3 linked regions of the Homo sapiens genome follow. The protein of the gene in region 2 interacts with the protein of the main gene of each other region in a biochemical or structural test. Each region holds a gene or a part of one and is shown on either strand. Other genes may lie near its edges.

Evidence for each region.
Region 1: the proteins of PACSIN2 (region 2) and EHD1 form a complex in vitro, tested with the Homo sapiens proteins (one study listed by BioGRID).
Region 3: the proteins of PACSIN2 (region 2) and TRPV4 interact in a test that uses a peptide from one of them, tested with the Homo sapiens proteins (one study listed by BioGRID).

The regions. Positions count from the first base shown.
Region 1 is NC_000011.10:64,854,622-64,861,621, forward strand, and holds part of EHD1 (EH domain-containing protein 1), read right to left. Parts: intron 5,716-7,000; coding exon 5,303-5,715; intron 866-5,302; coding exon 701-865; intron 237-700; coding exon 1-236. UniProt on the Homo sapiens protein: ATP- and membrane-binding protein that controls membrane reorganization/tubulation upon ATP hydrolysis. In vitro causes vesiculation of endocytic membranes. Acts in early endocytic membrane fusion and membrane trafficking of recycling endosomes.
Region 2 is NC_000022.11:43,004,589-43,012,576, forward strand, and holds part of PACSIN2 (protein kinase C and casein kinase substrate in neurons protein 2), read right to left. Parts: intron 1-7,988.
Region 3 is NC_000012.12:109,782,589-109,788,398, reverse strand, and holds the end of TRPV4 (transient receptor potential cation channel subfamily V member 4), read left to right. Parts: intron 1-1,502; coding exon of another isoform or gene 1,503-1,523; exon of another isoform or gene 1,524-1,561; coding exon 1,562-1,689; intron 1,690-3,961; coding exon 3,962-4,083; intron 4,084-4,620; coding exon 4,621-4,778; 3' UTR 4,779-5,310; downstream 5,311-5,810. UniProt on the Homo sapiens protein: Non-selective calcium permeant cation channel involved in osmotic sensitivity and mechanosensitivity. Activation by exposure to hypotonicity within the physiological range exhibits an outward rectification.

The DNA of each region.
Region 1 (7,000 bases), on a different chromosome or scaffold from region 2:
CACTCCACGTCGTCGATGCCCTCGCCGGCCCCCTCGCCGTAGCCGTGCCCGAACGGCCCGTTCATGGTGCCGTCAAAGGCGCCGCCCTTGACCACCTGGGAAGGCATCAGGGACTCCTCCTGCCGCACCATCACCATCAGCCGCGCGATGTCGTTGGCCAGCATGTCATCCACCGTGTCCAGCAGCTTGGGCTTCAGCGCCTGGAACTTGCTGAAGTCCTGGGTCTGCAGGAGTTCCTGTGGGCGGGGGAGGAAGGACAAGGGCTGGGAAGGGAGGCCCCTCCCAGACTCCAGGCCAAGTGGTTCCAGTCAGGGCTTCACAAGCATAAAGTGCTGCTCCCCCACACTAGCAGGGGCGACTCGGCAAAACCATCTGGCCCTTGGCTCTCTAACCTGTACACAGGAGGCACCTCCAGCTCTTTCCTTGCAGGGCTGCGGCAAGGATTCATGGACAGGGCACCAGAGCGCCTGGCATGGCCCTGCCCTCCCCCCACCACGCAGGGTGAGTCACCACATTCCCCTCTGCAGTGTCACCGCCTGGGTCAACTCTGAGTTGGGTGGGGTGCTGGTGATTAACCCAGCTGCTTCCGTTCAGGGAGGCCCTTCCCCATGGAGATGGGATTCCCTCCAAATCCAGTGCCCTGGGCCTTCCTTCTGCCCTGATGGCCACCAGCCTGCATGGGGCCTCGGGACAGCCGTACCTGCATCTTGCGGAGGCTCGGGAAGTCCCCAGGGGAGATCTGGTGCTCGCGCTCAATCTTCTGGTAGATCTCTCCGAGGTTGTTCACCAGCTCTTTCTTTTTGCTCTCTTTACCAAAGACATTGGGCATCTCTTTCTTGAGGGAGCTGATGATGTAGGCGTGAACCTGTGAGGACGGGGTGAGCATCAGGCGCTCTCTTGGCCCAGGCTGCCCCCGAGAGCAGAGCCTCCAAGGACACTCCAAGGATACTCCAAGGTGCTCGCTCAGGAACAGGGAAGCAGGAGGGATGGGTCAAGCTCAAGGCCGCTACCACCACCGGCTCCCACAGTCCTAGGAGCAGACACAATCTGGCAAGAGCCACAGCTGTCCACTGCCACAGGACAGAGGACAGGACAGGAAAACGCACTTGAAACAGAAGACAACAGCCTTGGCCTTGCACGGATCATTGTGATGATTCAGGAAGAGTAAAACCCAGTCTGTCAACCCAAAGAAGGCAATTTGTCGTGTACCACTGGGCACATCACACACCCTCTGTTCAACCCTCACCACGCATCACACACCCTCCGCTCAACCCTCACCACGCATCACACACCCTCCGCTCAACCCTCACCACGCATCACACACCCTCCGCTCAACCCTCACCACGCATCACACACCCTCCGCTCAACCCTCACCACGCATCACACACCCTCCGCTCAACCCTCACCACACACCCTCCGTTCAACCCTCACCACAGCCCTGCGGGGTGGGATTCTCCCAACCCGGCCCTAAGCAAGGCTGGGAAAGGCTGCCTGGGGTGCTTGGCTCCCACATGGAGGAGCTGGGATTGGAACCCCGGGCTGCTGAAGGTGCCCCACAGCCCATGTTCTTCTGTTTCTCTGCAAGCCCCCTTCCCCCGAGCTGCCCCCTCCCACGCAGCAGAGCAGGGAGCAGGCTTCCTGCAGGGCCCACCAGCCTGCACGTCCAAATCCCTGCTGAGTGCCGATGGAGCCCACAGAACTCCAATGGGCCCGTGCCACGCTCCACTCCATCATCACAGCTCGGATGACGAAGGATTTGAAAAATCCCAAAAAGGCTTCTCCTGGTGGTTGCCAGCTTTATCCAAGCATCAATACCTTGCTTAGGCATGTGCCTGTTCAGGGCGGCACCCCCTTCATTTCCCTGCAGCAAGCTGGGAACCTGGCAGCCCTCGAGAGTAGCCCAGCCCTCAGATCCCTCGGCCTTGCCAAGTCGTGTCCAGCCACAGAGGGCTGCGGCCAGCCAGCCTTGCTGCCCTTCTCCCCGGCTCCAGCCCATCCACCACCCCGCTCAGCCTGAGCCTGTGCCCTGGGTGGGGGCCTGGCTGAGAACTGCCTGAGGGAGGCAGCCCCGTGCCATGTGGGTCTGGATCTAGAGTCTCCCCAGGGACACTGTGGCAGGCAGATCCCAGGCCGGTGGGAGTCATCACAGAGAGCACCACTCACTCCAGGAAAAGGAAGTGGCAGGTGTGAGGCAACACTGGAGGCCACAGGGTTTTCCAGGCGCGGTGACTCAGTGTGCCTGGGGCCTGGCAGTCACACATGGTCTCACAGACGACCAGGCAGGGGCTCATGCCTGCCCCTTGTCCTGTCTGTCCTCAAAGGTGGCTGAGCAAGGGAGCTCTCTCTGCCCTGCAAGGAGAGAAACTCAGCTAGGGCCACACCCACACCCCTCAGCTCAGGACGTCCTTTGTCCTTTGAGGCCAGGGTCAGTCACCTGGGTTTTTGTATGGGTTCCTCTCTCAAAGCTGGCTCCACTCACAGGGAGGCTCCAGAAGGGAGAGATCTAGAAAAACATCCAGCCAGCCGGGCGCGGTGGCTCACGCCTGTAATCCCAGCATTTTGGGAGGCCGAGGCAGGCGGATCACCTAAAGTCAGGAGTTCGAGACCAGCCTGATCAACATGGTGAAACCCCGTCTCTACTAAAATATAAAAATTAGCTGGGTGTGGTGACGGGCGCCTGCAATCCCAGCTACTCAGGAGGCTGAGGCAGGAGAATGGCTTGAGCCTGGGAAGCGGAGGTTGCAGTGAGCCGAGATTGCGCCACTGCACTCCAGCCTAGGTAACAGAGTGAAACTCCATCTCCAAAAAAATCAAAAAATAAAATAATAAAATTAAAAATAAGAAAAACACGCAGCCCTCTGTCCTCCAGAGCCGGCATCTGACCCACGCCCGTGCACACAGCTCACGGAGGTTCAGGCCAGAATGAGAATTCCTCATCTACAGGGTGAGGTGGGGCCCAGGGTACTTGGGGCACAATGGGAGGACAGTGGTGGCAAAGGATGAAGGGTCAGTTCTCACTGCTCAGACCAGGTAGCACCCACATGCCCTCTGACTGGCCTCCAGACAGAGTGGGTACGAGGGCCACTGTGCTCAACGCCTGCAGTCTCCATGCCTCTGAGCAGGCAGGGACATGGGCTCCCCAGGAAGTGCCCATCCTCAGTCCTCAGTTATATTCTGGAGATCAGGGGACTGTGACCCTGGCCACAGGCACATCTGTCACTGAAGCCTTCATGCCCACATGATGTCTACCCTGGTACCCCCTGCATGCCATGAGGTGGGGGCAAGCACCCTGCTCTGTTGAAGAACTGGGGACGTATCACCAAAGGGCCTGGCTTGGCAGGCAGGACAGTTCCCCAGCCACGCTCCGGCCTGGCTGGCCTGGAGATAGGAGCTACGGCAAGGGCCTTTTTTTTTTTTTTTTTTTTTAAATTAAATAGAGACAGGGTCTCACTAGGTTGCTCAGGCTGGTCTCTAACTCCTGGCCTTAAGGGATCCTCCTGCTTTGGCCTCCCAAAGTGCTGGGATTACAGGCGTGAGCCACCATGCCTGGCCAGAGCCTATTTCTTTTCTTTTTTTTTGAGACAGAGTCTTGCTCTGCCACCTGGGATGGAGTGCAGTGGTGTGATCTCAGCTCACTGCAACCTCTCCCTCCTGGGTTCAAGTGATTCTCCTGTCTCAGCCTCCCAAGTAGCTGGGATTACAGGCACGCACCACCACGCCCGGCTAATTTTTGTATTTTTTTTAGTAGAGATGGGGTTTTGCCATGTTGGCCAGGCTGGTCTCGAACTCCTGACCTCAGGTGATGCGCCCACCCACCTTGGCCTCCCAAAGTGCTGGAATTACAGGATGAGCCACCATGCCTGGCTGGAGCCTATTTCTGAAACAACCGAGCCCTGTGCTAAGAGCCTGAAAGAATAGCTAGGTGCCCTGCTGATACAAATGTGGGCTTGGTCACTTCTCAGCTGTTCAGACAATCTGTGTCAAACACTCCTGTCCACGGGGTCAACCCCAACCACAGCCGGGACTGTCACTCATGGTGACTCGTCTAGGCTGGCTCACGATAGGGTGCTATCCAAAGTCAGACACGCCAAGGGCATGTGTTCTGTCATTCTGTGTTGGAAGGGCCCGCTGGTGGCATTAACCTTTGTTTCCTGGCCCCACCCACACCGGCTCTCACTCAAGTACTTGGTCAGCCACTGAGATTCCAAACCCTTTGGCCATTCAGAGGCTGCTGATAGGTGCCACCAGGCCTGGGCTGCCAGGAGACCTAAGGATGGTCTGCAAGGCCTGCTGAACTGACACTGCCTCAGCGTGACCTTGGCTTCCATGCACAGTGCTCCCCGGGCTGCAGGCTGGCACCCTGTCTCCTCACGAGCTGCTTCCTGTCACAGCTTAAGCTTCAGCTCCTGCCAGGCCCCCCCAGCCCTTCTACTCCACTGGGACAGCCCCTAGCGCCAGCTCCCGCAGCAGCCTGTGCTCGCTCCGAGACGACACAAATAACTGATGTTTATTTTTTGTTTGCGTGCTCTGCTTTCCCCATGAAGGCTGAGGAGTGGACAGGGGCTGTGTGTCACTCCCCGCCAGTACCCGGCATCCAGCACTGTGCTGAGTGCACTTCAGGCTCAGTAAACCCCAGAGGGGTAATCCCAGCACTCTGGGAGGCTGAGGTGGGCAGATCACCTGAGATCAGGAGTTTGAGACCAGCCTGGCCAACATGGTGAAACCCTGTCTCTAATAAAAATACAAAAATCAGCTGGGCATAGTGGTGCGTGCCTGTGATCCCAGCTACTCGGGAGGCTGAGGTAGGAGAATCATTTGAACCTGGGAGGTGGAGGTTGCTATGAGCCGAGATCATGCCACTGCACTCCAGCTTGGGCAACAGAGCGAGTCTCCGCTTCAAAAACAAAAACAAAAACAAAAAACCCTAGAGGGAAGCCAACAAGCCTTAGAGCTCTATCCCCCAACACTCCATTTCTGAGGCTGCCTCCTTTGCTTCAGCGGTAACTTCCTGTGTGCTGTTTCTGTGTTGTAAGCACAGTCAAACCCTTCCTGAAAGTAGATGGGGTATAAACCACAAACAGAACAGGTTTAGAGGGAGGCCGGGTAGAGAATCTTAGTTAAGAGCAGGCTGCACGCGGGTGCTGACCAAAGACTGGTTTCTATAGAGGGAAACAGCGCAGTGCAGGTCTGCCTGTGAAGTGAGCTGGGAAGGGTCTCGGGCAATCCTGGGGCCCTGAGTGCCAGTCTCAGAGCCCCATGGCCCTGCCTGGCAATAGGCTGCTCCCCTCACCCCAGGGTCTACCTTGGCCAGCCGTGCCCGCTTGATCAGGTCATTGAGCTTCCTGAGGGCGGCGTTTCGGGGCAGTGACTGGATGTCCTTGAAGAGGTCCTGCTCCTCGGCCTCAAAGAGCTTGCGGTTGTCGGGGATGAGGAGCGGGTGGGACCAGAAGGAGCCGATGTAGACCCTGACCACCTCGGGGGTGTTGATGATCTTGCCCAGGGACCACATGAGGGCCCCGTACACCCGCATCAGCTGCTGCGTCTCGATCTGGTCTGCCTTGTTCAGCACCACGCGGATCTTGTCCTCATGGTTCTTCAGAGCCTTGATCACTTCCGAGAACTCATCGGAGATGTCCAGCTTGTGGGCGTCGAAGAGCAGGATGATGCGGTCCACACGCTCCGCGAACCACTCCAGGACGGCTGCAAAGTCATAGCCTGGGGGGAAGAGAAGGGAGAGCTCAGGGGCGCCAAGGGACCTGCTGCTCTGATGGCTCTCATCTCCAACCTGGCCTGGTATTTCTCAGCCTGAGATAGTTTTTAAAATTCCTATAGGCCGGGCGTGGTGGCTCACGCCTGTAATCCCAACACTTTGGGAGGCCAAGGTGGGAGGATCACGAGGTCATGAGTTTGAGGCCAGCCTGGCCAACATAGTGAAACCCTGTCTCCACTAAAAATACACAAATTAGCCGGGCAGGGTGGCGCGAGCACTCAGGAGGCTGAAGCAGGAGAATCGCTTGAACCCAGCAGGTGGAGGTTGTGGTGAGCCAAGCCCATGCCACCGCACTCTAGCCTGGGTAAGAAGAGCAAAACTGTCGCGAAAAAAAAAAAAAAAAGAAAAGGCCAGGCACAGTGGCTCACACCTGTAATCCCGACACTTTGGGAGGCTGAGGTGGGTGGATCACAAGGTCAGGAGTTCAAGACCAGCCTGGCCAACATAGTGAAGCCCTGTCTCTACTGAAAATACAAAAATTAGCCCGGCATGGTGGTGGGCACCTGTAATCCCAGTTACTCGAGAGGCTGAGGCAGGAGAATTGCTTGAACCTGGGCGGCAGAGGTTGCAGTGAGCTGAGATTGCGCCACTGCACTCCAGCCTGGGCAACAGTGTGAGACTCCATCTCAAAAAAAAAAAAAAAAAATAGCCGGGTGTGGTGGCACATGCCTGTAGTCCTAGCTACTCAGGAGGCTGATGCAGGAGAACTGCTTGAAACCAGGAGGCAGAGGTTGCAGTGAGCCGAGATTGTGCCACTGCAGTCCAGCCTGCGTGACACAGCGAGACTCCGTCTCAAAAAAAAAAAAAAAATTCCTAGGTGTTCATCTAGACAGCACAGCACCCTGAGGGCAGGATTATCTCCCCTATTCCTGCCCCCACCATAACACTCCCCAACCCATGTAGCACTTGGCATAAACAGGTGCTAATGCAAAGGTCGTCCCACAGTGCAAGCTCTAAGGTGGGTCAGAGGAGGGCGAGAGTGAGGAGGAGACCCAGCACTGTGCTCAGCACAGCACAGAGGGTAGAACATAGACTCCAGTGTTGCCACCTGCCTGCTGTATGCCCTGGGACGGTAGTGACAAGAGGCGCCTGCAAAAGTAACTGCAGCTGCTACTTTTTCAGTGCTGATGTGCCAGGCTCCCCATTTTGCAGGAATCTCACTTATTTTCTGCAACAAGGGTTGGCAAACTACAGCTCAGGGATCAAACCTGGCCCACCACCTGTTTGTAT
Region 2 (7,988 bases):
CAATTCATGATCTTGGCACGCTCGGTTGGCGACAACATAATTTAATATAATGAAAGACAAATGCAGTTTAAAACATGAAAATGCTCACAAACTACGGTTTGGGTATCACTTTACATTAAGAAGATTTCATTTCATTCAATAGGAAACTTCAGAATACACAGTTGATCCTATCTAAAGACCACCCTGCAGGTCCAGGCAGAGGCCCCGTCACAGGCCTCCCTGGGCGCTCTGGGCTTGGGCTCAGAGGCCCATATGGGGTCCTGGCAGGTGGCCTCAGGCAAAACCACTCACCCCTTTAGCTCTGACTCTCTTTCTCCTCTAAACAATGAAAAGGGAAACAAATCAACAAGGCTGTCCTGAAAACAAAATGAGGGCTATGGAAAGCTTCTTGGTAAAATGCAAATGCCTAGACAACCAAGCTCTTTTTATTTATACTTATTTTAATTACAAAGTTATTACTTAAACATTAATCTAAAAGTAAAAGGGCAATGGTACTGTGTGGAAAACAAGGAGAAACTTCCTATAATTCTAAAGCCTTAACTATCACTGCTGCGTGTTATCTTAATACAATTTCACACAGGTGAGCAGTGCTCACACCTTTATCATTTGCTTTCTAAGTCCTATTTCCCATCACCTAGGGATAAGCTATCATTACCAGTACTCCCTTCCAATCCTGAGTCACTACGTGTAGTCAAGCAACATCCCTTCACCCCAGGGTCAGGCTTTCTAGAATCCATCACATTAAACTCAGGCAGAGAATTACCAACCCAGAAGAGAGCAAGGCCTCTCTGCATGGCAAGGCTGCCCTCAAAACCCAGGGAGGATATGACCATCATCAGGCCCTTACCCCAACAAAAGGGCCAGGTGCCAACAGCAGCTTACAAAAGGTGGTGGGGAGAAAGACAGGCCCTGTAAGTGCCAGGATATGAGGGGAGTCCATGCAGGGCCAGGGCAGGAGGCCTCACCCACACCAATGACCTGCGACTACACCCGTGACCCCGAGTCACCAAGGAAAGGTCCAAAAAGTTCTGGAAGGATTTTTAAATAGAACTGGATAAAATCACTTTGGGCACTTTAAAGGTATAGTTTGCTGGCAAATTCACTTACGTAGACTGATAGGAGAGTGACTGAATGAGCACTGTGACCAGGCACACATGCTGGGCTCCTGGGGTCCATCACCTCATGCTGCCCCGCCAAAATCCTATGAGGAAGGGCTCTCAGTATCCTGGTGCAAAGGACTGCATGTATGGATCCCCTCAAAATTCATATGTTGAAATTCTACCCCTCAGTTTGATGGCATTAGGAAGTAGGGCCTTTGGAAGCTAATTAGGCAGGGCCCTCATGAATGGGACTAGTGTCCTTACAATTTTTTTTTTTTAGTTTTTGTTGAGATAGGGTCTCACTATGTTACCCAGGCTGGCCATGAACTCCTGGCATCAAGTGATCCTCCTGCCTCAGCCTCCAAAAGTGTTGAGATTACAGGCATAAGCCACTGCACTCAGCCACTCATGCCTTTATAAAAAGTACCTGAGAGCTCTCTCGCCTTCTTTCTGTCATGTGAAGCTATAAGAAGTCAGCAATCCGCAACATGAAAAAGGACCCTCCTCAGAACCCAACCATGCTGGTACCCTGATCTCAGACTTGCAGCCTACAGAACTGTAAGAAGGAAATTTCTGTTGTTTACAAGCCACCGCATCTTTGTTATAGCAGCCCCAACTGACTAAGACACTCAAGTTTTGGAGACATTGAAACATTTGGCCAAAAGCCGCACAGTCACCTAGTGATGGAGCTCGAACCCACACCCAAGGGCTGTATGACTCCAAAACCATGTTCCTAACCTCCAAAACCTTATTGCAAAATTACCTTTCTTCTGTAGGAACTAACAGTGAAAGTGACATATTAACCTCAAGGATCTGTAAGCATAAACCATATGGAAAGAGAAACAGCCAGGCACGGTGGCTCATGCCTGAAATCCCAGCACTTTGGGAGGCAGAGGCAGGCGGGCCGTTTGAGGTCAGGAGTTTGAGACCAGCCTGGCCAACATGGTAAAACCCCATCTCTACCAAAAATACAAAAATTAGCCCGGCATGATGGCGCATGCCTATAATCCCAGCTACTTGGGAGGCTGAGGCAGGAGACTCACTGGAACCTGGGAGGTGGAGGGTGCAGTGAGCCGAAATCGCACCATTGTACTCCAGCCTGGGCGACAAGAGCAAAATTCCGTCTCAAAAAAGAAAAAAGAAAGAGAAGCAGAACCCACACAGCTACTGCATTCTCAACCAAACACGTAAATGCAGGTTAAGAGAATGAGTCAAGGCTGAGGCCATTCCCACTCGAAAAGCCCTTCTCATTAGAGTGGAGCCACTGCTTCCTAGGAACACAGATGGCAATCCTTGAGACTCCCAGAGACAGAGGTGACCTTTGTGAAATTGAGTCACCTGAATCACCCCTCCCCCATCTGCATCCCTGACTTCTCAACTGACATCTTGCTTCTCTGAAGATCTTCATCCCGGTATTTTAAATACCCAGAAACTGCTCCCCAGTGAACTGTCCTCCAGGAGAATATAAGGCAGGTCATAACCTGGAGCCTTCCCTGCCCCTAGCAGCCCCTCTCACACACACCTCTTGTTCTTTTTTTTTTTTTTTTTGAGACAGTCTCGCTCTGTCACCCAGGCTGGAATGAAGTAGCACTATCCTGGCTCACTGCAATCTCTGCCCCCAGGTTCAAGCGATTCTCCTGCCTCAGCCTCCCGAGTACCTGGGTTCACAGTCACAAACCACCACGCCCAGCTAATTTTTGTACTTTTAGTAGAGACAGGGTTTTGCTATGTTGGCCAGGCTGGTCTCAAACTCCTGGCCTCAAGTGATCCGCCCACCTCAGCTTCCCAAAGTGTTGGGATTACAGGCGTGACCCCTCTCTCCCAGCCACTCCTTGTTCTTCAGAGCTCTGTAGCTCTGCCCAGAATGGTCCTTCACGTCAGCCCCACCTGGAGAGCACCTGTGGCTCTGGCACAATCCCTCCCAAGTCACTTCCCTGAAGGTCAGCTCTCTGTAGTGTCCTGAGGACAGTCAGACCCGCCCTCCTCTGTCGTGCAGTACTTTGTACACACTACTATCTGGTACCGCCACAATGAAAAGAGAAGTTTCCAGGCCTGCTGCCTATACTGAGCTGCCTTTACAGAGCAGCCATCATCTTTATCTCAGGATTCCAGAGCTGCAGGCAGAGCCAGGGGCACCAGGCATGCAGTGGCCAGGACCACTACCTCTGACTCACCCTGCCTGTTGCCTTCCACCCACAGATGCTCCCTCCACATGAGCCACTGAGATATCCTCCAAACACTCTCAGTCCAGGGAGTGAAATGAAAATAAAAAGCAGGTACTTCCACGGGCAGCTTAATGGAGTGCCCCAGCTGGCTGCAACTCTATCAATAGTCACATCACACATGACATAACAGGAAGACAGGTGGATTCTCCACACACACTCCACATTGAGTGATGCCTGCTGTGTGCAGTACTATCAGCTTCCATGTCTGAGTATTCAAAACAGCTTTCAGAAATACATCAGAAGTATTCTTTTAAAAAATAAAAATAAAAAACATCTTTATTATGATTATTTTCATCAGAAATAAGCCACCTAACATCTGTGAGGCTCTAAAATTCAGTGGTCTTCTTTTTTTTTTGAGACAGAGTCTCACTCTGTCGCCCAGGCTGGAGTGCAGTGGCACAATCTCGGCTCACTGCAACCTCCGCCTCCTGGGTTCAAGCCATTCGCCTGCCTCAGCCTCCCCAGTAGCTGGGATTACAGGCACGCACCACCATGACCAGCTAGTTTTTATATTTTTAGTAGAGATGGGGTTTCACCATATTGGCCAGGCTGGTCTCAAACTCCTGACCTTGTGATCTGCCCACCTCAGCTTCCCAAAGTGCTGGAATTACAGGCGTTAGCCACCACGCCCGGCCTAAGTTCAGTGTTCTTTTACATATATGAGCTCTTTATATAGCTCAGAATGTGTACTCTTTCAATAAACCAAAAAAATTAGTCCATAAAATGTTAGGAATCTAGCCAGAAGGCCACAAGCAGCCACTGTTGGACAGTCCTGGCCACTGGCACAATCCACACCCAACTTTCAAACCCACCCAGCGGCTCTGGGCCCAGGGAGGGGCCTCCTAGACTGCAGAAAGCATCTCATCTGTGAGGACATACTTGGATAGGACAAGTGAGACATTTGGAATTTTTACTTAACATTTATTTCACAACTTTCTCAAGTGCTAAGCAACTGAGAAGTAGTCATTTTAATGTACTCTTTCATCAATAAGCATTAAATAAGTCTGCTCAAAACACTCAAGCCCTACAAACTGTCCCTATGAAAAATGTGGCAAGAAAAAATAACAAAAACAAATAAGTAGCCTTTTCACATACAGAAAAGGTGTTTAGTGATCCAAATTCAGAGAGAAAAACAGTCCTTTCCGGCAGATGAACAAATAGTTTCCTCTACGAGTGACACATTCTGGGATATTTGAACTGCCAAACATAACTCATAATGACAACCACCAAGGAAGCAAAACCTAATGGAAAAGCCCCAGGATGGCAACCAGGAGCCCCAGTTCTGGTCCCAGGACGGCCTCTGGCTGTTTGCTCCATCAACGTGCTGACCAAGCCTGGCCCACTTTCTTCATCACAGGAAGGAATATCTATTGCCACCTGTACCACTCAGAAATGTTTTGAGGACAAAAGAATGAGAGGTGAAAGTGCTTTGGAATGTGCATCTTCTATAAATACAAGTCATCATTATTATTAGCTCAAAGATGACCAGGAAAATAGGATTACAGAATATCACAGGTGAGAGGGAGCTTAGAGATGGAATAATCCAGTTCTTAATCTGGGTCCACGCCTATGAAGCTGTCCCCCTTCGTGGGAAGGGGTCACAGTTGCTATCAGATTTGCAAAAGGTGAAGGTCCTCTAAGTCCTTCATTTTACAAATATGAAAACTGAGACCTGGAGTTCTGTGCTGATTGTCCCAGACCTCAGGGTTGGTCAGGGAAAGGCTGGACAAGAGCCCAAGGCTCCTAGTCTCCATCCACGCTCCTCCCCCTCTGTCATCTCATATTCTTGGGAGGAAAAATAATCATATAAATTTTATCTGGCCACAGAATATGTACTATAAACCACCACACATGCACTTTCCAAAGGTACAGCAAAATCTCTAGCCTTATTTATCATTTTTAAGGCTTCTTGCGAGGTCTTTGATAGTTGAGACATCATTTTATTTTTTCTATTTTTTTTTTTTTTTTTTTTTGAGACAGAGTCTTGCTCTGTCACCCAAGGCTGGAGTGCAGTGGCACAATCTCGGCTCACTGCAGCCTCTGCCTCCCGGGTTCTAGTGATTCTCCTGCCTCAGCCTCCCGAGTAGCTGAGATTATAGGCGCACGCCACCATACCCGACTAATTTTTGTATTTTCAGCAGAGATGGGGTTTCACCATGTTGGCCAGGCTGGTCTCGAACTCCTGACCTGAAGTGATCTGCTCCTTTACTTCCCATAGTGCTGGGATTACAGGTGTGAGCCACAGCGCCCAGCCCCATTTTATTATTTCTATATTCTCATCTCCGTCTAGTTCAGTGCCTAAAATCAAGAAACACGCAAATGATTTTTTTAGGATTGAAAATAGGCCAGGTGTGGTAGCTCACACCTGTAATCCTAGCACTTTGGGAACCCGAGATGGGAGGATCACTTGAGGCCAGGGGTTTGAGACCAGCCTGGCAAACATGGCGGAATCCCATCTCTGTTTAAAAATACATATATATATATATTTTTTTTTAATTGAAAATAAAAAAGACCGGCCAGGCACGGTGGCTCACGCCTGTAATCCCAGCACTTTGGGAGGCAGAGGCGGGCAGATCACGAAGGTCAGGAGATCAAGACCATCCTGGCTAACATAGTGAAACCCCGTCTCTACTAAAAATACAAAACATTAGCCAAGTGTGGCGGCGGGCGCCTGTAGTCCCAGCTACTTGGGAGGCTGAGGCAGGAGAATGGCATGAACTCGGGAGGCGCAGCCTGCAGTGAGCCAAGATCACACCACAGGGCACTTCCAGCCTGGGCAACAAAGCGAGACTCCGTCTCAACAACAACAACAACAAAAAAAGACAAGAAAGGAAAAGAAAAAAGACCTTATTCTAGGAAACAAGAAAGACTCTATGGTGCTTTAAGTTTTATTAAGCAAACAGATGAACATGCATTTATGGGAATAAGCACAATTCAATAGGTAACTTAAGGAAAGGTGGTTTTTATTTGTTTTATGTGTGCTTTTCATCAAAATGTCAAAACTTGTGCTCTTTGGTGGCCACTGTCCCTCAAGTAGTTACCTTTGGAACTGCAGAGATACCAAAAAATGATGTATTGTGCAGAATAATTTGAGAATTCTTTGAAGCCTGTCTCCAGTCCACAGACAGAGCATACTCATCTGAACACTAAAATTCTGCAGAAATTCCTACAAAACTATCCCAAGAACCACCACTGGGACGCATCTGGAGTCTGTCTGGGGCAGGGACGAATGATACTTTCTGGTATGTGAGGGATCAGTGCCCTGGCCATAAGGAAAGACTCTACCTGTGGAATGCAAACTGCCTTCGTAACTAAGGCATTGCTGCACTGCCCTCAGGTATGCAGCTACCATTCCAAACAACCTAACTGGAAAAAAACTAAGCCAGCACTATTGCTCACATGAATGTGGTCATTAATCGCATAATCTACAGGGCGGCCTCCACAAAGCTGCCATTACAATCTGATGGCAGATAAAGCAGGCCCGAGTCAGCTGGGAGGTTCACATGAAGGTGGCCAGAGAGCATCTGGTAAATGCCACTGCGAACTCTAAACACAAGGTGCCATCACTATTATTAAAGAAACTTTTCGATCTGTTTGATATTCCACAACATCCGGAATCATCCACTGATAACCCCTTCAGAATCAGTAAGCCTGAGCATGACGCCCTTAACACAGCACAGACTTTCAAGGTATAGAGAAGAAACAAAAGGCAAGGACATCTGCGAGGCCGAGGCGGGCAGATCACTGGAGGTCAGGAGTTCCAGATCAGCCTGGCCAACACTGTGAAACCCCATCTCTATTAAAAATACAAAAACTAACCAGGCAAGGTGGCAGGCGCCTGTAATCCCAGCACTTTGGGAAGCTGAGGTGGGCAGATCACCTGAGGTCAGGAGTTCCAGATCAGCCTGGCCAACATGGTAAAACCCCATCTCTATTAAAAATACAAAAACTAGCCAGGCAAGGTGGCAGGTGCCTGTAATCCCAGCACTTTGGGAGGCCAAGGCAGGTGGATCACAAGGTCAGGAAATCGAGACCATACTGGCCAACACGGTGAAATCCCGTCTCTACTATAAATACAAAAATTAGCCAGGCGTGGTGGTGGATGCCTGTAGTCCCAGTTACTCAGGAGGCTGAGGCAGGGGAATCACTTGAACCTGGGAGGCAGAGGTTACAGTGAGCTGAGATCGCACCACTGCCTCCAGCCCGGGCGACAGAGCGAGACTCTGTCTCAAAATAAATAAATACATACATACATACATACATACATACATACATACATACATACATACAAACATACAAAAACTAGCCAGGCAAGGTGGCAGGCGCCTGTAATCCCAACTACTGAGGAGGCTGAGGCAGAGGAATCATTTGAACCTGGGCAGAGACTCTCTCTCAAAAAAAAAAAAAAAAAAAAAGCAAGGACAAATGCCCCTCTGCTCCCACTCCAGAAATGCCTGGCCATCAGAGATGTGGATGGGTATCCAGGATTAGGGAAAAGTTCATGTTATCTCCCTGCAGAATGCTATGTTGGTGGAAATCCAGAATTTTTTTTAAATATATGCATACTTTTAGATTTATTTATTTTTAAACAGAGTCTCACTCTGTCACCCAGGCTAGAGTGCAGTGGTGTGATCTCAGTGCACTGCAACTTCCATCTCCCAGG
Region 3 (5,810 bases), on a different chromosome or scaffold from region 2:
TGAGGCCCCAGGGCCCCCAGCCCCACTCTACCAGCCACCCTCGTCCTTCCGAGGAGACCCACCCGACTGGCTTCCTCGGCCTTCCACTCTGAGCAAGCAGTGTCTTCTCATTCTCCCTCCACTTCTCTGTCGGTAAAATGGGCATCAGAGGCTGCTGCTGACTTCCCAGAGCTGCCTAGTGAATTTTGAGGTGGCTTCTTGCCTGGCTGCCAGCAGTGGGCTCAGATTCTCCTTGTGGTCCAGCTCACAGGACACAGTCGGCTCCACCTAGCATGACTGAGTGACTTCTGCCGGCTCAGAAAGTGCTCCGTGGGCATCAGCGTTTCAGCAGGGGTCCCACGCTGAGCCCAGGGGCAGCTTTTGTGCTCTAGCACTCCAGCACAGGGATGTCAGCATTCTCATGGGGGTCTTTTTCTAGCAACTGTGAGCATGCTTCCTAGAGGAGAAACCAATGGGGACAGGGGCCGCCTTGGCCCGGGGAGCTGCAGAAAGTTTTTACTTACCAAAAGCTTTCTATGCAATCCTGGAAAGAACAGGCCCTGGGATCACAGCCCTCCCAGGCCAGGTGCAGCCTACAAACCTGGTGTCCTAATAAACAGTGCTGCCCCACGGCCCAGGAATACAGCACCCGTGTTTACCTTGACTGTGCATTTCAGGAAAATGGTGCAGTGAGAAAAAAGGGCCCAAGGTTGTCCTCCCAGGACTGGGTCTGAGGGAAACAGCTCTGGCCTGCTCTTAACCTTTATCTATATTGCTTACTTCATTGGGCCTCAGTTTCCCCACTGGGCATTACTCACAGGATGCAAACTGGGCATCCTGTGGGCTGGAGTGCAATGGTGTGATCTTGGCTCACTGCAACCTCTGCCTCCCAGGCTCAAGTGATTCTCTGTCCTCAGCCTCCCGAGTAGCTGGGGCTAAGGTGTGCACCACCTCACCCGGCTAATTTTTGTATTTTTTGTAAAGATGGGGTTTCACCATGTTGCCCAGGCTGGTCTTGAACTTCTGAGTTCAAGCTATCCACCTGCCTTGGCCTCCTAAAGTGCTGAGATTGCAGGTGTGAGCCACTGCACCCAGCATCAGACCATTATATTAAAAACAACAACAACAACAAAAAACTGCAAAATTTAAAAATTAAGAGATTCCCTATGAAAACCCAGATTTCTGGCTTTTCTTGAAAAGTTGGAAGCTCCAGGCAGTGCAGGGTCCGGATTCCTGCCTGGCAGCCCTCAGGTGGGGTGAGTGGCAGCTGCCCCCTTACACGTGGGCATTTGCTCCCTGTTCTCCCCAGTCTCTACCCCTCCCTCACTGAGAGGCAACTGCTGTGTAAGTGTGATAGGGCTTGGGCGGCAGCCTTTCTGCACCTGATCCTGTTTCACCCATTTGTTTTCCTGCCTGCCACCTGTGGGTATTTGAGTTTATAAACCCTGTGTCTAGTGGGGAGTAGGAGTCTAAATGCCTAGTTCTGGGCCCACCCTGGCCCGTTGTCTCATTTCTGCCACCAGAGCGGCAGGCGCAGGCTGTGAGGCTCACCGATGTCCCTCCTGACCCTCCCTCCCCGCAGTGGGCCACCACCATCCTGGACATTGAGCGCTCCTTCCCCGTATTCCTGAGGAAGGCCTTCCGCTCTGGGGAGATGGTCACCGTGGGCAAGAGCTCGGACGGCACTCCTGACCGCAGGTGGTGCTTCAGGTGAGGCTGGGGCAGTGGGGCCAGGATGGCAGGGCGGAACTGTCCCCACTGGCTCGGGGCCCCTGCTGCTCCAGCGTCGTCTACCCATTGCAATTTCTGGAGCCACTGAGGCCCCAAGAGGCCCGAGCAGAGTTCATTTCCACCAGGCGATCTCAGGCAAGTCAGCCCACCTCTCTCAGCCTCAGTTTCTTCATCTGTGGAATGAGACAATGATCTCACGGGCTCCTAGGCTGGCGGTGCGGATTAGACAGGTCAGCACGTGAGAAGTGCTCAGCCAGTGCCCGACGCGCATCGGGACGCCACAGGCTCCCCTGTTCTTGCTCAGGGGGAAGCAGAGACTTGGATGGTGGGTTCATTTTAGAGCATCACCCTGTATCTACCAAACAGTGGGGTGAGCTCTAGTGCCCTCGGTGAAATGGGAAGCTGAGGAATGTGCAGTTTCCAGGGCTGGAGACCTCACCCAGCCCATCTGCAGAATGACTCCGTGTTCCAGAGGCACAGGGAGTGCCAGCTTCTTAGGGGAACCCCTTCATGAATCTTTTCTTTCCAGTTGATTCATTCATTGTAAAGTGGTTGTCAGCATGGAGCATAAGCAGAATGTTTGGAGTCAGACAAAGTCAGTTTCTTCATCTGTGAAATGGGAACAATAATAGAACCCACCTCCTAGGCCATCCGATCAGTTCAATTCCATTTTTTGTTTGTTTTTAGAGGCAGGGTTGCTCAGGCTGGAGTGCAGTGGTGTGATCATAGCTGACTGCAGCCTCCAACTCCTGGTCTCAAGCGATCCTCCCACCTCAGCCTCCTCATGCCACCATGTCCGACCAATTTTTAATTTTTTTGTAGAGATGGGGTTCTTGCTATGTTGCCCAGGCTGGTCTCAAACTCCTGGTCTCAAGCGATCTTCCCACCTCAGCCTCCCAAAATGCTGGGATTACAGGCGTGAGCCACCACACCCAGCCTCTGTTCAGTTTGAATCCAAAGCTCAAATCTTGGCTGGGTGTGGTGGCTCGTGCTTGTAATCCCAGCACTTTGGGAGGCCAAGGTGGGTGGATCACCTGAGGTCAGGAGTTTGAGACCACCCTGGGCAACATGGTGAAACCCTGTCTCCACTAAAAATACAAAAATTAGTCGGGAGTGGTGGCATGCACCTGTAATCCCAGCTACTCGGGAGGCTGAGGCAGGAGAATCGCTTGAACCTGGTAGGTGGAGGTTGCAGTGAGCCGAGATTGCACTACTGCACTCCAGTCTGGCGGACAGAGCAAGACTCTGCCTTAAAACAAACAAACAAAAATGAATAGATAGGATAAAAAATTAAAGATAATATGTAAAAAAAAAAGATAATATATAAAAAAATGAGTGGATAAACAAAATGTGGGCTATGTGTACAGTGAAATATTATCTGGGCCAGGCGTGGTGACTGTAATACCAACACTTTGGGAAGCGAGGCAAGAGGATTGCTTGAGCCCAGGAGTTCAAGACCAACATAGTGAAACCCCATCTCTACAAAACGTTTTTAAAAAATTAGCCAGGTGTGGTGGCATATCCCTGTAATCCCAGCTACATGGGGGGCTGAAGTGGGCGGATCACTTGAGCCTGGGAGGTCAAGGTTGCAGTGAGCTGTGATCGTGCCACTGCACCCTAGCCTGGGCAATGGAGTGAGACCCTGTCTCAAAAGAAGGTTAAAAAAAATAATTTCTGCTTGGGGGAATGGAAGAATTTTGGAAATAGATAGCTGTGATGGTCACACAATGTGGATGTGCTTAATGCCACTGAATTGTATACTCAAAAATGATTAAGATGGCAAATTTTTTGTGTGTGTATACACACACACACACACACACACACACACGTCTTTTTTTTTTTTTTTTTGAGATGGAGTCTTGCTTTGTCCCCCAGGTTGGAGTGCAGTGGCGTGATCTCGGCTCACTGCAACTGCCTCCCAGGTTCAAGTGATTTTCCTGCCTCAGCCTCTCGGGTCACTGGGACTATAGGCACCCGCCACCATGCCCCGCTAATTTTTTTTTTAATTTTTTTTAATTTTTAGTAGAGGTGGGGTTTCACCATGTTGGCCAGGCTGGTCTCGAACTCCTGACCTCAAATGACCCACCCACCTCGGCCTCCCAAAGTGCTGGGATTGCAGGCATGAGCCACCACGCCCAGCCTTGTTATGTATATGTTACCATAATAAAAAAATAGGAGGGTGTGCTGGGGATGGTGGCATGGAGAGCGTCTCTGAGGGGTTCCCCATGACCCTCTGCTTGGGCCCTGCCAGGGTGGATGAGGTGAACTGGTCTCACTGGAACCAGAACTTGGGCATCATCAACGAGGACCCGGGCAAGAATGAGACCTACCAGTATTATGGCTTCTCGCATACCGTGGGCCGCCTCCGCAGGGGTGAGTGGAGGGGCGGGTGCGGAGGGGAGCCCCAGTCCATTCTCATCACGAATTTGCTTTGAGCAGTCCTGCTTCTTTCCGGGACTCAGTGTCCGTGTCTACAGAATGAGAGAGTGTGCCCCTGAGCTTCCTCTGCTGCTTGTGAATGCCTGGGGCACCTCACCTACGTGGCTTCATCCTGGCCCTCCCTACTGTTGACATAAGCTGGCCTGGGGAGGGAGGACGAGCTCCTCAGCCATCCCTGTGTGGAGAAAACCTTCCTGTTTGTCCAGTAAGCCATGAGCACGCGAGACGCAGCTGGAGAGGACACAGGCACTCAGGGCATTCGGCTCCAGGCTTGAATCCTGGTTCCTCCATTCTCTCCTGGGGAGGCACCTTGACCTCTCTTGAGCCCCAGTTTCCACCTCTGTAAAATGAGCATAGTCACATCCCCCCTTCAGAACACTGTGGAGTGCCCAGTACACAGTAGGCACTCAATATACGCACGCTCTCTCTCCACCAACCCCCACCCCTCCCTCTGATGTGCTCTCGGTGCAGATCGCTGGTCCTCGGTGGTACCCCGCGTGGTGGAACTGAACAAGAACTCGAACCCGGACGAGGTGGTGGTGCCTCTGGACAGCATGGGGAACCCCCGCTGCGATGGCCACCAGCAGGGTTACCCCCGCAAGTGGAGGACTGATGACGCCCCGCTCTAGGGACTGCAGCCCAGCCCCAGCTTCTCTGCCCACTCATTTCTAGTCCAGCCGCATTTCAGCAGTGCCTTCTGGGGTGTCCCCCCACACCCTGCTTTGGCCCCAGAGGCGAGGGACCAGTGGAGGTGCCAGGGAGGCCCCAGGACCCTGTGGTCCCCTGGCTCTGCCTCCCCACCCTGGGGTGGGGGCTCCCGGCCACCTGTCTTGCTCCTATGGAGTCACATAAGCCAACGCCAGAGCCCCTCCACCTCAGGCCCCAGCCCCTGCCTCTCCATTATTTATTTGCTCTGCTCTCAGGAAGCGACGTGACCCCTGCCCCAGCTGGAACCTGGCAGAGGCCTTAGGACCCCGTTCCAAGTGCACTGCCCGGCCAAGCCCCAGCCTCAGCCTGCGCCTGAGCTGCATGCGCCACCATTTTTGGCAGCGTGGCAGCTTTGCAAGGGGCTGGGGCCCTCGGCGTGGGGCCATGCCTTCTGTGTGTTCTGTAGTGTCTGGGATTTGCCGGTGCTCAATAAATGTTTATTCATTGACGGTGGAGATGGCAGGATGATGGCAGGGGTGGGAGGGATGGTAACAGGCATGAGACTGCAGCGAGGGAGATGGGAGAGCTAGGAAATGCCTGGGGGGAGCCAGGGGCAGGGGTGAGAGTGAGGGCAGAAGTCCTGACCGGGAGGCATTTAGAGTGTTGGTGGTTGGGGGCTGGACTGGGTGGTTGTGATGGTGGTGGTGGTGGCCTGAGAGGTGGCTGAGGTTGGTGTGGCTGTGGGGAAGGTGGGGGTGGAGGGAGGAGAGCAGAGTGATGCTGGTGGGGGTAATAATGCTGGCCAGGGAGAGTCATGTTGGCAGGGCGAGAGTGATGCTGGTGGGGGTGACAGTAGTGCTGGCTGGGGGATAATGATCCCCATGGAGACAGTACATTTGGGCAGGGGAGAGTAACGCTGGCCAGGGGTTGACAGTGCAGGTGCGGGGACTCTGGTGCTCATCAGGGGACAATTATACTGGGAGGGCTGTCCTGCTAGGCGGGAGGATGGTTGC